Linked DNA regions of Homo sapiens. The protein of the gene in region 1 interacts with the protein of each later gene in a pairwise test. Each region holds a gene or a part of one and is shown on either strand. Other genes may lie near its edges.

The links. Proteins that work in one complex are often made in the same cells at the same time.
Region 2: the proteins of PLEKHG4B (region 1) and ARHGEF12 interact in binary tests that used the Homo sapiens proteins (3 or more experiments, as listed by UniProt).

Annotation. Positions count from the first base shown.
Region 1 is NC_000005.10:87,514-95,170, forward strand, and holds the start of PLEKHG4B (pleckstrin homology domain-containing family G member 4B), read left to right. Parts: upstream 1-4,654; 5' UTR 4,655-4,718; coding exon 4,719-4,763; intron 4,764-7,657. UniProt on the Homo sapiens protein: Guanine nucleotide exchange factor (GEF) which specifically activates small GTPase CDC42 by exchanging bound GDP for free GTP.
Region 2 is NC_000011.10:120,339,391-120,346,413, reverse strand, and holds part of ARHGEF12 (rho guanine nucleotide exchange factor 12), read right to left. Parts: intron 1-7,023. UniProt on the Homo sapiens protein: May play a role in the regulation of RhoA GTPase by guanine nucleotide-binding alpha-12 (GNA12) and alpha-13 (GNA13). Acts as guanine nucleotide exchange factor (GEF) for RhoA GTPase and may act as GTPase-activating protein (GAP) for GNA12 and GNA13.

The DNA.
Region 1 (7,657 bases):
GGCCCTTATCAGATATGTGATTTGCAGATATTTTCTCCACTTGGCAGATTGTCTTTTTGCTTTCTTGAGAGTGTGCTTCAATGTAAAAAAAGGTCTTATTTTGATGAAACTCATTATCTAACTTCATTTCCAATGCTTTTGCTTTAATATCCATGAAATTGTTGCCAAATCCAATGCCATGAAGATTTACTTCAGTGTTTTCCTTGAGAGTTTTATAGTTTTAGCTCTTAAGTTTAGGTCTTTGATTCATTTTGAGTTAATTTTTTACAGGTGTAAGGTGAGCTTTAACTTCATTCTTCTGCATATGGATATCCAGTTTTCCCAGTGCCATTTGATGAAAAGACTGTCCTTTACACAGTGAATGTTCTTGGCACCCTTGCCAAAAATCATTTGACTGTCTATGTTAAGCATTTATTTCCAGGCTCTCTTTTCTATTCTGTTGGTCTGTCCTGATGGTAGTACTGTACTGTTTTAATTACTGTAGCTTTGGGGTACATTTCAAATTCAGGAAGTATGTATGAGTCTTCTAATTTTGTTATTCTTTTTCCAAGATTGTTTTTGCTATTTGGGGCCCCTTGCAATTCCACGTGAATTTGGGGACCTGCTTTTTCATTTCTGCAAAAAAAAAAGCCATTGCAATGTTGACAGAGATTGCATTGAATCTGTAGATCATTTTGATGAGTATTTACGTCCTAGCAATGTTGTCTTTCTATCTATGAACATGACATTGGCTTTCCATATATTTGTTTCTTGAACTTCTTCCTCAATATTTTGTAGTTTTTAGCATACAAATCTTTCACTTCCTTGGTTAAACTTATTTCTAGGTATTTAATTCTTTTGGATGCTATTGTAAATAGAATTGCTTTCTTAATTTCCTTTTCATATTGTTCATTGCTGTTGTATAGAAATACAAATACCGATTTTCACATGTTAATCTTGTACCCTGTAACTGTTGAATTTTTGTATTAGCTCTAGTAGCTTTTTGTGTATTCTTTGGAATTTTCTCTATATAGGAACATGTTACCTGTGAATAGAGTTTTACCTCATCCTTTTCAATTTGAAAGTCTTTCATTTATTTATTTTTTGTTGGTTGTCTCTGTTGCTGTCGCTGGAACTTGCAGCAGAGTGTTGACTAGACATGGCAGCAGTGGGCACTTGTCTTCTTCCTGATCTTGGGGAAAATGTTCAGTCTTGCCATTGAGTATGATGTTAGCTGTGGGTTTTTCATAAATACTTTGTATTACTTGAGGAATTTTCTCCCATCCTTGTTTTCCAAGAACTTTTTTTCTGAAAGGGTATTGCATTTTCAGAAGCCCTTTCTGCATCGATTGAGATGATCGTGTGGGTTTTCTCCCTTCGTGCTGCTACTGCAGTGCACGACATTGACTGATTTTCTTATATTGAACCACCCCTGTGTTCTTGGGATAAATCCCACTCGGTCATGGTGAATAGTCCTTTTAACATACTATTCCCTGACTTTCTTTTGAGGCTTTTTGCATCTGTAGTCATAAGGGATATTGGTGTGTAGTTTTTCTTTACTCACAATGTCTTCATCTGGCTTTGGTATCTGAGAAGGGCTGGCCTCCTACCATATGTTAGGAAGCGGTCCCTCCATTCCAGTTTTTAAAAAGAGTTTGTGAAAGAGATCTATCTACTCTTGTGACTTCTAAGCATGGACACATTTCCTGGCCCAGTCCTGGTTCCTCCTCCCCTCTGTCCACACACTTAGTTCCACCTGTCTAGACACAACTGTGTGGTAGATGGTTCTAGAACCACATCTCTAACCCAACCGCTACTCCAAGCACCAAACTCATACAGCAGTCAGTCCACTCAGTATGTTCAATAGGCATCTCAATCTTAATATGGCATTTCCCCCCAGACATGCTTCTCCAGTCTCTCCCATCTCAGTCAGTGGAAACACCTTCCACCTGCTGGTCAGGCCCCAAATCCTTGAATTGCTGTGTTGGTGCTGACTCGTGACTGCAGACAGCAGAATCCGCTATAGCTAATTTAAGCAGTGAGGATATGTGTGAAGCCATTGGGTAGATCATAGCATCCATGGGAGAGTCAGGAAACCAGAACAGCGAGAAACAACCACAACCCTGGAGAAACACCCAGCCACGCTGTAGGACTGTGTTAGGGAAACCCCCCTCCCCGTCCCCTGCTGCTCAGCACCAACAATGCCAGGGACGGGACCCAGAAGAACCAAACACCTCAACATCCATCTGCTGTGTCCAGCCCGATTCCTGTGTTCCTTCCACATCTCATGTGGTGCATCTCCTGGCAAAACCGGGCACATCTGCACACCAGCTGCAAGGGATCCCGGAGCGTGGCATTATGGCCTCCAGCTTCTGCACACTGGAGGGCACACCCCGGGGGGGGGGGGCGGTGGCAGGGTCACTAATTCAGTGTCTGCCTCTGTGCTCTTTGGGTTCTGTCTCCGCAGCCAGCTTTTCAGCAGTCCTGCCCCCTCTGCCTTTACAGGTCCTGCTTTGACCATTTCCCATGACCTCTGTCACTCCCCTGGAACCCAACCTCATCACTTTCACCAAGATCAGGCATCCACTTCCTGATCTCCTGCCTCCGCCTGCTGAGCTCTCTGAAATGTAAGTCGGAACAGGTCGCTTCCTTTCTAACTCCATCCCCTCTGAGTGTCCCCACTTTCGCTGTGTTTGTGAGCTCACCAGATCTGCCCCCCCCCCACCCCATAGGGCCTTTGCACAGGTGGCTCCTTTGCCTTCAAGTCCCAGGTAGCTTCCTCTCAGTGTCTGCTCAGCCTGCCCCATCAGAGAGGCCTTCCTTGACCGGATTTGTGTTCTGTCCACTGGTTTATTTCCCTCCACTGGAATGTCAGCTTCCCAGAGATGGGGGCTGTGCTGTGACTACCAGTAGTAGTTGATCAGTAAGTACTTTTTGAATAAACCAAGCTATGTTAATAGTCCATGTTTTGGAAAAACTCCCTAGAAAACATCCCTAATTCCATGGATCCATGGCAAAGAAAGAACCAGATCTGTAGAAACGGGCTGGAGAAGCTCACAAAGGACTCCTGGGCTGAGAAAGCCCCACACGGTCCCACTTTCTTTCTGTATAGTGGAGGTGTGGCAGGGGTGAGCTCCTACCACGGGCCCCAAAGTCTCCAGTAAGAGTGAGATTCCGGGCTGCACCCTGACCAGGCGCCACTGGGTCACTGCTGACCGTCCTGGAGGTGCTGAACAGGGATGAAGCCGTTTATTCTGGAGGCATGCCAGCATTCTTGGGTCCTGCTCTGGCAGGAGCTGTGGGGCCACACAGGCTTAGAAAGGTGGCTCCCATCCTGGACAGCACCGTGGGCAGTACTGTCACGAGGACGGGCTGGGAGGAGGGTGTGGCAGGGGTGTTGGGGGCCTCAGGTAGGGGCCAGCACAGAGGGACACCCAGATACCCAGCACAGAGGGCAGGAACAGGTCAGCTCCCTGCCTGGGCTCAGGGATGGGGCTGGAGGTTCTAGGAAGCAGAGCAAGTAAGCAGGACAGGGAACAGTGAGAACACAGGTGTAGATGGAGAATCAAGGCGGGGCGCAGCCAGGGATTCCAGGGAGGAGTAGACAGAAACTCAAGGGAGGGAGGCCTCGAGGGGATCCCAGGGAGGTGTGGACAGGGATTCTAGGAAGGAGTAGACAGAGACTCAAGGAGGCCTCGACGGAGATCCCAGGGAGACTGACTGCCTGCTGCATAGGAGGGAGGCTCCCAGCTGTGTCCCTGAGCTGCATAGGAGGGAGGCTCCCAGCTGTGTCCCTGAGCTTCATCCACTCTGTAACCTGTGACAAAACGGAGCATTATCTGTCAATGAGCACATCTGTGCCGCAGTTTTTGGGATGGTGCCAGGGTAGGGGTGAGGGACAAGTTGAGGGGACAGGTTGAGGTGGGGTCCCTGTGAGGCCCTCCTGGACGGAGTGGACCTTATGAGACACTCCCTAGCTGAATTCCCAGCAGGAAGCTGGTGCCCAGAGCACCCTGGACTAACGGGCGGGAGAGGGACTTTGTTTTGGGAGGCTCTTTGTAGATCAAGGCATTAAAATTGCACCTTTGGGGAAAGCATGTTCCAGAGCACCAGACACCCCGAGGCACCCTGAGTTGTGGGGGGGGAGGGTGATGGAATTTGGGGCCCTCGCTGAAGCCCTTCATTATCCAAGCCAGGCGCGGGGTGGCACGTAGTTCCCACAGCGGCCCCTGGACGGAGGAGAGGGCCTGGGCCGTCCACACCTGCAGAAATCTGGAGCTGGTCCGCCTAGACCAGGGGAAATCGGGGTCCCGTCCGGGTACACTGGCAGAACTCAGGGGTCAGATCCTCTGCCCTGGAGCATTCAGATTTGTGCCTCTACGTTATGGAAACCAGGGGCCCGTCCGGGTGCAACGTGGCATCCACAAAATGGCAGGTCCCCGAGCTCCGGGCTCCGAGAGAACAAAAGCAGAAGCCACTGCCGCCCGCGCTCGGGGAGGAGCCGCCCAGGTGGGCGCGTCCGGGGCTAGGCGGGAGCTGCGCAGCCGGGTCCAGGGGAGACGCCCCGCCCCGGCCGGACCCTCGGAGCCTCCTAGGGGAGACCCCGGCCCCGCCCCTCTCTCGCCCGGATCGGGCGGGGCCCCGGGAACGCGCGCGGCGAAGGCGGCCTCGGCCCAGTGCACAGCGGGACCAGGCAGAGTTCGGGGAAAGCGTCGGAGTTCGGGAGACCAGGGTCCAGCATGGGTTTCAGCACAGCAGACGGCGGGGGCGGCCCAGGCGCCCGGGTAAGAGGGGGCACGGGGACTGCGGCGGGTGGGGGCGCGAGCGGACGCGGGAGTAGGGGCGGGTGGGGGCGCGGGGGTAGGGGCGGGGTGGGGGGGGGCGCCGGAGTAGGGGCGGGTGGGGGCGCGGGGGTAGGGGTGGGGTGGGGGCGCGAGCGGACGCGGGAGTAGGGGCGGGTGGGGGCGCCGGGGTAGGGGCGGGTGGGGGCGCGGGGGTAGGGGCGGGGTGAAGGCGCGAGCATCAAGGCGGGCGGGCGCGGGGACTGGGGTGGGAGGGGGCGCGGGTACCCAGACGTGCTGGGGGTCCTGGCGTGGGTCCTGGGACCTGCCGGCGGCTGCTGCGGGAACGGGAGGGAGCTTCTTCAGGCACCCTTTTCCTTGTAACCTCGTGAATACTCGGGAGAAGAAATAACGCTTTCTGGACAGATTTGCCCTCTCGGTGCCTGAAGGGGAGCCAGGGGAGGGGAGTCTGAAATCTCATCGCCAAAACTGAGAGTTGCTAAGTTACTCTTCAGCTCAAACCGGTGGGACAGAACAGTGATCTGTGGTGGCCCGGAACAAAGAGAATTTTTACTTAAAAATACCAAGATTGACTTTTGTGTTGGAGTGCTAGTTGATTTGAGTAAGAAACATTTGCTAGTAAAACAAGACAGTTATTTCAGCTTTGGTGAAAGAGTGATAAAGCTGTTTTCAGGTTTTTCATGTGAGTTGCAAAAAGTATATTGGGTTTGCCTTTCCCTGTTTCGTGTGAAACTAAAGAGTGGTTGAGGTGAGGTAATTACACTCTACTCCTGTTACCCAACAGCACTTTTGCCTAAAAAGTTTAGTTGGTACGTCTAGGTGTCTAATTAAGAATTGAAACATATAATTTAAAAATTAAGTTAAATGTCATTGAAACGGTGCATAATTGATACTTTTGACTGAGCCTTAGGCAGCTGGGTGGGTCCTGAATCAAGATTCCTGGGAAGGTAGGTTTCTCAGCTTCCCGAAGAGATTTAATGTAAATCTTCATGTAATGTGGACAAAGGTGAGTTTTAGCTTTCAATTTCCCTGAGCCTGCCTCGAATTCACAAAATTCCAGGCTCTCTGGGTCAGAAGGAACTTCGGAGATCTTGAGGAGGCCGCCGTCTCCGAGATTCTGTGATATATTCAGCATTTCCATTCCCTATGGGATCACAACCCACTGGGAAGCAGTGTTTGGTGACCCCCCCACCGAGAAGTGGGTTCATATTCCTGCTTCTGAGGAGATACCAGGTTTTTATTTCACTGTGCGGCATCCGGTGTGCAAATGCAGATGTGGCCTGGGCTGGGAGCACACAGGCTTGACCCCGCAGGCAGCCGGTAGGCCAGGGTGTCAGGTCCCCTGTGTTAGCCGGAGCCTTCTCATCTTTTATCCTGGTAGAGGGGCGCTGCTGGCCTTTCTGGGGGGTGGGTCTAGTCTGAAATCACCTTTGTGGGATCTGTGGCACTGGCTAGCTCTCAAGCTGGCCGGTGGTCTCAAAGGAATTCTTCGTTACTTGTAAAGTAGCCCAGAAATGCTGGGCTGAGGAAGTAATTTGCCCCAAGGCTCCCTGAGACCTGTATTCACAGGTTGTATCATCCAGCCAAACACAGGAGGCCCCAGATCCCCAGATCTCAGAGATTTTTGTGGGAAATCATCTGAGTCTAGCTCAGACACCACTGCCTCCCTCCTTCCAAACAGAATGAGTTTGTCCTCTCTTTGCGTTTGAACAAAAGTCAGGCCATCTAGAGCCTCCTAACTCTCACCTCAGACCTCCAAGGTGGGGCTACTCATTCTATAGATAGTGGAAATTGAGGCTTCAACACCTGCCCAGCATCTCACTGCCAAGAAGCAGCAAAGCTAGGTTTGAGCCAAACTCAAGGTCCTGGTTCTCCTTCTCCCCTCAAGGGCCCTGAAATTTTGGTGCCTCTCCTGGCTGATACAGCATCAGTGCTTCTGTGCCCTGCGGCAGCGGTTCTGTTCCCCACCTGGGTCGCCCCACACCTGGCAGGGCAGGTGCTCCCTGTGGACAGGCCAGTGCTGTTGGGTCCAGCCAAGACCTCAGGTGCCACGTGTGTGGTGAGGGGCTCCCTTCTTCCACCATGCTGTTGAAGACAGAGCCTCAGACTTTGTCTGACCCGAGACCCCAACGTGCTTCTGAGCAGGGGGAGAGTGAAGAGGGGTAGGCTGGGATGAGTGGGTGGCGGGGCTGGAGGGGGTTGAGAGGTGGCAGGTTCCATCCTGAAAGTGTTGGTTCTGGGCCTGGGAATCTGGGCAGGGGGAGAGTGAAGAGGGGTAGGCTGGGATGAGTGGCTGGCGGGGCTGGAGGGGGTTGAGAGGTGGCAGGTTCCATCCTGAAGGTGTTGGTCCTGGGCCTGGGAATCTGGACTCTGGTAAGCAGAAGGCACCCAACATTTCCCTTTACCTTATGGGGGGCTCTCGGGGAGGTGTCTGTGAAGTGGGTAACAGGCTCCAGACCCCGATCTTTTGTCCAAAGAACAGGCCTGGAATCTTGGAAACCAGCACATCCACCCTCCATGAGCTGTTGTCCTTCGGGCCAGTAGCTCAGCCTCTCTGAGCTTCAGTCTGTTCATTGTTTACAGGAATCATCTGTGCCTCACCTACCTCTCCGAGTACCCTAGAGTCAAACTTGAAAAGAGATGTACACAAGCTTTTAACAAGGAAACACAGTTGCATTCTTCACTTATGTTACTGTCCTTTAACAGAATGTTCCTAAATTGAAAGCTGCCTATGTCGTTGTGATATCTGGGACACTTTTCTGGGCCGCAGTTCACACCTGGGCCCAGGTTCTCAAAGACAAAGCTTTTGAATTCTTTTTGATTGATCTTACAAAATTTCCCCTGACAGAAAATCACATTGTGCAAAAGAGATACTT
Region 2 (7,023 bases), on another chromosome or scaffold:
CATCTGTTTTCTTGCTCTCTCCCTCATCCACAATAATGGCACAGCCCAGACAGGGGATGCTCCTTGAGCCAGGGTTCCAAAATAAGAAACGTGAAGCAATGCTGCAGTCAATCCACAGCTGACAAGGTGTAGCATAAGCAAGAAGAAAAGCAGTGTTGTAAGCCACTGAAATTTGATAGTGTTGCTACAGCAGCATAACCTAGCAAAAGAAGACAGATACACTTATTATGGAGTAGGTGCAAAAAATAAAATTATAGGCTGGTATATATTTTTAAATGTTTCAGAAGATAAACCAAAAAAATTAACTATTGTTACCTATGAGGAGAAGGTATGAAAACTAACAGGTGTGTAGGAATACTTTTTTTTATACCATTTTATATGATTTGAATTTTCTGTGTGTGTATGCGTGTGTGCGTTTAACCTGAGCAGCAACATCTGGGTAGTTGGATCATTTGGGCCATTTATTTTTCTTCCTTCTGCTTTTCAGTATTAAAAAATAAAAATATAATAAGGCTACCGATAATTACTTAAAAATGAATAAGAACTATTCTTATACCCTTGAAGAACTCACGTATTAGCTAACAATTTAGCTTTAAATAAAGCCTTCCCCCATTCATTGTTAATTTTTTTAACGTCCAAGGCTAAATACTGTATATATATATATATTTAGGAGTATGACATACGCCATTTCGTTTTTTTTTTTTTTTTTTTTGAGACGGAGTCTCGCTCTGTGCCCAGGCTGGAGTGCAGTGGCGCGATCTCGGCTCACTGCAAGCTCCACCTCCTGGGTTCATGCCATTCTCCTGCCTCAGCCTCCCCAGCAGCTGGGACTACAGGCACCCGCCACCACACTCGGCTAATTTTTTCTATTTTTAGCAGAGACGGGGTTTCACCGTGTTAGCCAGAATGGTCTTGATCTCCTGACCTCCTGAACCGCCCACCTCGGTCTCCCAAAGTGCTGGGATTACAGGCGTGAGCCACTACGCCCGGCCTGTTATATGCATTTCTATCAGTTTGCTCACTTTCAGGTTTCAGCAAAGCAATATAGTGTTTTGTATATGGATGGTACAGTTACTAATCTCAAAGGAAATTCTCACAATTTCATTATTTTAGTATGCCAGTTAAATTGGCAAAGAGGTTTGCTCTAGTTACAGTTGTTCAAGGGAGAGAATACAGTCATGGGTTCTTAGTTTCTGTTTCTGGATGGGCCAGTAAAGCCCCTTCCTCATCCCTCTTTCCGTTTTATCACTAGAGACAGAAACTAAAAACCATGGCTTCAGGCTGCTGAAAGCCTAAAACAAAACAAAACAGAAGAACAACAGCAAAATAAGGCAGGTTGGACAAGCTTGCTAGGTGTTAAGTTTGGTAAATATGCCTTAACCAGTACTAGAGCAAGGAATCTATTAAGGAAACTCTTCTAGGGTAAAATCATAAAGGAGCATTGAAAGAAAGGAAAAAAAGGGGAAAAATTCTAATCATGACTCTTGTGGTGATAAAACAACACTTGAATGGTTACAGAAATCAAGTTTAATAGAGTAACACTTTACTACATGAACAAGTTTTAACTTCAAGAGAGCAATATCTGAACATAGCAGTAACCTGCAAATGACTAAGAACATGTCTGTACTTTTCATCCTAAGATCTCAAAGCACTTCACAAACATTCATTTAACTCTCATATCACCTGAGAAGTAGTGATATAATAATACATCATTATAACCATCTATCCTGCCAATACAAAATATTTAAATACCTCTTCAGCAGCACTTGCCCTAAGAAGGTCTTGCTAAACAGCCAATAAAACAGGAAATAGGCTGACAGTGCATATGCCACCAACAATCTCTGAAAAGATCAGACCTTCACCCACAAGAACCACTTCCTCTCAGTAAACCACAGAGACTGTACTGGGCAAACCACAACATATCGGCTTGTGTCTGGAACATAGGCAGATAACCCATCTAAAATCTATGGAAGGGTATGTCTAAGCACCTTCACAGGATTTCTTGTGTTAGCAAGTGTATTTGGGGTATCTGTTACTCTTCTGGATAACATATAGCCACTTTCTGCATTACAAGATCAATTTCAGGTATCATTCCTTCAGAGGCTGATGAAGTCTCCAGTTTTTTTTTTTTTTTTTTTTTTTTTTTTTGAGACGGAGTCTTGCTCTGTCATCCAGGTAGGAGTGCAGTGGTGCAATCTTGGCTAACTGCAACCTCCGCCTCCCGGGTTCAAGTGATTCTCCTGTCTTAGCCTCCCGAGTAGCTGGGATTACAGGCATGTGCCACCTGGTCCGGCTCATTTTTGTATTTTTAATAGAGACAGGGTTTCACCATGCTGACCAGGCTAGTCTTGAACTCTTGACCTCAAGTGATCCGCCCACCTCAGCCTTCCAAAGTGCTGGGATTTACAGGCATGAGCCACCGCGCCTGGCCAGTTTTTCTACAACAAAATAATCTACATTTTTTTGAATCCATAAAAGATCTACAAAGTCCTCTTTGATCTTTTGAGTATATGAATGTAAAATCAACATTTATATGTAATATTTGACAAAAACTGTAGTATCAGAGTGTACCTTTAAATGACTCTAATGTGTTATATAACACCAAAAGAAAAAGCAGTGTGACAAGCAGCTAATTGAAAGCATTAACTAAAACCAGGCTCTCTTATATAGTTCCAATTTCTGCATGAATTGTTACTTGCAGTCCAAGACAGGAAACCTACTTTTCATTGGCCAGTAGATTTGCTTGTCTCTAGACACTGAGAAGCCACCCAGGCCTGTCATGTGACTGTGATCTCAAAAACCAGGACTCAGCATTTGAATTAGTAAAAGATCCTGTTTCGGTATGAATCTAAACTGCATTGGTGCATGCTAATTCAAGAGGTAAAGTTAGTGTATTTTTTCTTTTACTAAAAGTCGACACTATATACTCATGCAATTTAGGCACAGCCTCTGACCAGGCACTAGCTTCATAGGCTTCTATTGGAGTTAGAAGCTGTCTTATAGCGGTCTTCCCTATATGACTATCTTGATGATTCCAGATATTCTAAGTTGAAAAAGTAAAATGCTCTAAATTTGGCATGTTTGCAAATTTTAGTATTACCAAAATACAAAATATTAATATTAGCAAAATACAAAACAAGGACATCTATCTCAATAATTTGAAACTAAAATAGTACTAAAGAAAATATGCTAATAAAGTATTCAAAAGGTCTACAGTCTTACAGATTTTATAATAATCTAAATATGCACTTTTTCTGTTACACTGTCTTGTCATTAACAATTCTTGTAAATACAACAGCAAGAAAGTAAAATATTTCAATTTTCACAATATCCATTTTACTGAAAAAAAAAATACTGCTAAGCATTGTTATTTCACTAACATGTGGAAATAAGAGGAGACAAAACAATAAGGTAAAAATAAACCAAACATCGAGGAATGTTTTGACCTACAATTTAAGATAACGAACTGAAAAACCACTGGAAAAAATAAGAAACAACTTCCTGATGTATTTCATCATATTGCAACAAGATGATTTTCCATCAAAGGTGGCTAACATTATTTCTATACCCTACCCTTTTGTCATAGAATTGATAACATTTGTTACATTGAGGGTACTCATATTTGAAAGAATCGCTTTGTAAAAAAGCCTTTTAGAACATGAGTAATTGCTTAATTAGTTGATTTGGTAATCATGCTGTTTGTATAAATTTGTTTCATTTGACTGTGACATATCTCATATCCATCCTAAAGACTATCTAAAATAAAAGTGAATCAAAATGACCTTGAGAATCTCTTTACCCATATTTTTGCAGTAGGAGAGCAACTGAGAAAAAGCTAATGAAATATTAAGATAAGCTGATTTTTAGACAATGGATCAACAGAAAGCATACAGCTTGGCTAAGCAAAGAGTAAGGGAAGGGGACCGGAAAGGATAATGAATAACCGTCTGAAACATTTAGAATCATACAAACATAAAATGGGAGGAGAGCATTATTTAGCCTGGTACAGCAAGTACATACAAGTAACAGGACAACTTAAAAGAAAAGTTAGACGTAAAGATCAGGAAAAACTTCCTGACAGCAAGATCTATCAGACTGTGCTTCAGTCTCCTGAGGAAGTGACAAAAGCTTTATCCTCAAGAGATATTTAAAATTAGAATGGGTAAGGTACTAGAAACTATGCTGTAAGAGAAAAATCCAACTGACTTCATCAAGCTGGAGAGTTACTAAAGGAAAATAGCACAGAAAAATACAGTACAAAGAAAGACAATAATTTAAAATGAAAAAAAACAATGGGGGACTTGAGAGCCAGAAAATCTAGGTTAAAATCTTGGGTCTGCCCTTTCTAGTTTTATAATCTTGACTTAAAATCTTGACTTAAACTGTATGAATTAGCTTAAAGTGTAAATGACAGAAGCATGATCTGCCCTGTACTGAACTGAAAATATTGTAAATGTTAAAGAATTATACTACCACAGGATATCATTACCTACATGATGGTATTTTACTCAAAAGAAGGCAAAAATATAATTTTGTTGATTTAAAAATTTTAACTCACATGGCACTATTTTGAAAACCTGTAATTATTATAAGGGAAAGGAGCATGTCTTCAAATAAAGCTCAGGAACATCATCAAAACCAAGTTTTAACAGAAAAGACCAAAAGAAGTTAAGCTACTATTCTTGAAAATGTGTCATGGTCAATTTCTAGGAAACAAGCAAGTATATAAGAAACATTTCTAATAATGTCAGACAACCATGATGCAAAAGAGTCCCTTCAATTACCTCTGGGAACCAGTATGTTATCTTGCTGTTTCTGTGACCCGTATCAGTTTGGGAAGCAATTCATACCCACCACTGGATGACATTTAGAAGAGGCAACCACATATGTACAATGAAATATTTTCCAACTGTTTTCCCTGGAATCGCAATGCTCCACAGAAACATATGTAAAATTCACCATTTATGGATTCCATGAATGTTTGCCTCAAATTTCATTTTTTAAACTGAAAACTCAAACTTAGTTAAAAAACAACAACAGCAACAACAAAAAAAACCACTGGGCTCGGTGGCTCAAGCCTGTAATCCCGGCACTTTGGGAGGCCGAGACGGGTGGATCACCTAAGGTCAGGAGTTCAAGACCAGCCTGGCCAATATGGTGAAACCCCGTCTCTACTAAAAATACAAAAATTAGCCAGGCGTGGTGGTGGGTGCCTGTAATCCCAGCTACTCAGGAGGCTGAGGCAGGAGAACCGCTTGAACCTGGGAGGCGGAGGTTGCAGTGAGGGGATCACGCCACTGCACTCCACCGTGGGTGACAGAGCAAGACTCAAAAAAGAAAAAAACCTACATGTTAACTCGATGGTATATACATGTTAACAACCGGAAACCACCAATGTGTTAAGTGGTATTCCAAGGTTAACATATTTTTGTAATGATTTCAAATAAAGCTTCTCTTGTCACCTTACTGAATATGAACATCATATAAATGTACCATTAATCAGGAAGACTACAACACTGTACTTTCAAAAAAAGTTACTTTAGATTCTGCATGTTGACTCATGTAAAACTGTACAAGTGAATGTACTATTGCATACCTTTATGACTCAAGATTTTATACTGAACTAAAAAGGCAAAGATAAAACTGAATACAAAACTAACACTGTGATCTTTGGCCCCCATTTCAATTTTGTATTTATGGACTGGCTGACTTTACAAGAAAAGGTTACAAATAATTTCACCTTGCCGAGAGATGACTCATGCAACGTTGAAAATAACATATAAACATGAGTAGCTCTTTTTTTTTTAATCAAAACCATTATACAGCAATTTTGACAGAAAAAGTATCACTAATGAAAAGTATCATTAATTACTGGGTACAGGCATATAAAGTCACAGGTTTCCACACTCACTTTAAAAATCTGCTTAAGTTAAACAGCTCAAAGCTGAATTCAGTGCTTTAAAAAAATTGTATCAAAAACCTGTCTTTATCTATAAATCAAAAACTACAAAATTCATAAGCCCTAGCCAAAACAAAAGTCCATTTATTTCAAGGAAGAACCCTATAACTTTCCTACCTGTACTGTCCCTGAAAATTCAATGTTATAGACACTGGCCTGAAATCATTTACTGAGTCTACTAAAAGGGCATTCTCTCCTGTCTACCTCTCAGAAGAAATTCCAATTGCTATAGGACCCCTAAATTCTCAGGGATACAAGAAAGACATGTAGGAGGATTGGAAACGATTAGGATGTATTTTAAGACTGAATGCAGCAATCAATGCAGACTAAAAAGCAGCAATCAGACATTTCTACACTTGTCAAGTGCTCATTCTAAACGATGAAAACTACAGACTCCAGGGCTCATAAATTGCTTACCATTTTTTTTAAAGCTGTTTGGATATACTACATAGAAGTAATAGCTACCATGAACATAGTTTGAGTTTAAAGTCTTTTAAAAAGTTTGAGTTTTAGGTTTTAAGGGGTGCGGACTGGGGAGTAAAAGATGAAGGGAAAGAGAAGAGAGCAAGTTAATGTGTTGATTTAACTGCAAAATAATAACAGGATGTAACAGAGTTCTGAGTATCCAAAGTGACCAATCAGAGCCTAAACATAGCTGAATTCCATCCCAGCCCCAGCACGTCCCTAACACAAGAATAAAACCCTTATCTTGTTCAGCCATGTGTCGCCTGCCACAAACTGCAAAACAGAACAACGCCCAAAACCAGCTAGTCTGATTTCAACTGAGGACAGACAGACTCTGTAGTCAGAAGCACCACAATGAAAGAACTCTAACTCACACAGCTGGCCTGGTGGTTCTGCACACTCTACGAAACAAAGCCATACCACATACAGCACTTCAAACTTGAAAGGATCTCTATCTAAAAAGCTACACTGGTGCTGTTAATTTTCCAACAGTTCTAGAGTCAGCAAAATATACCTACAGTAAGAGTTAGACACTACGAAAAAAGGATGAGGTAGGGCTGACAGAAAGCTAGAAACTATTATATACTCGTAACTTTGTT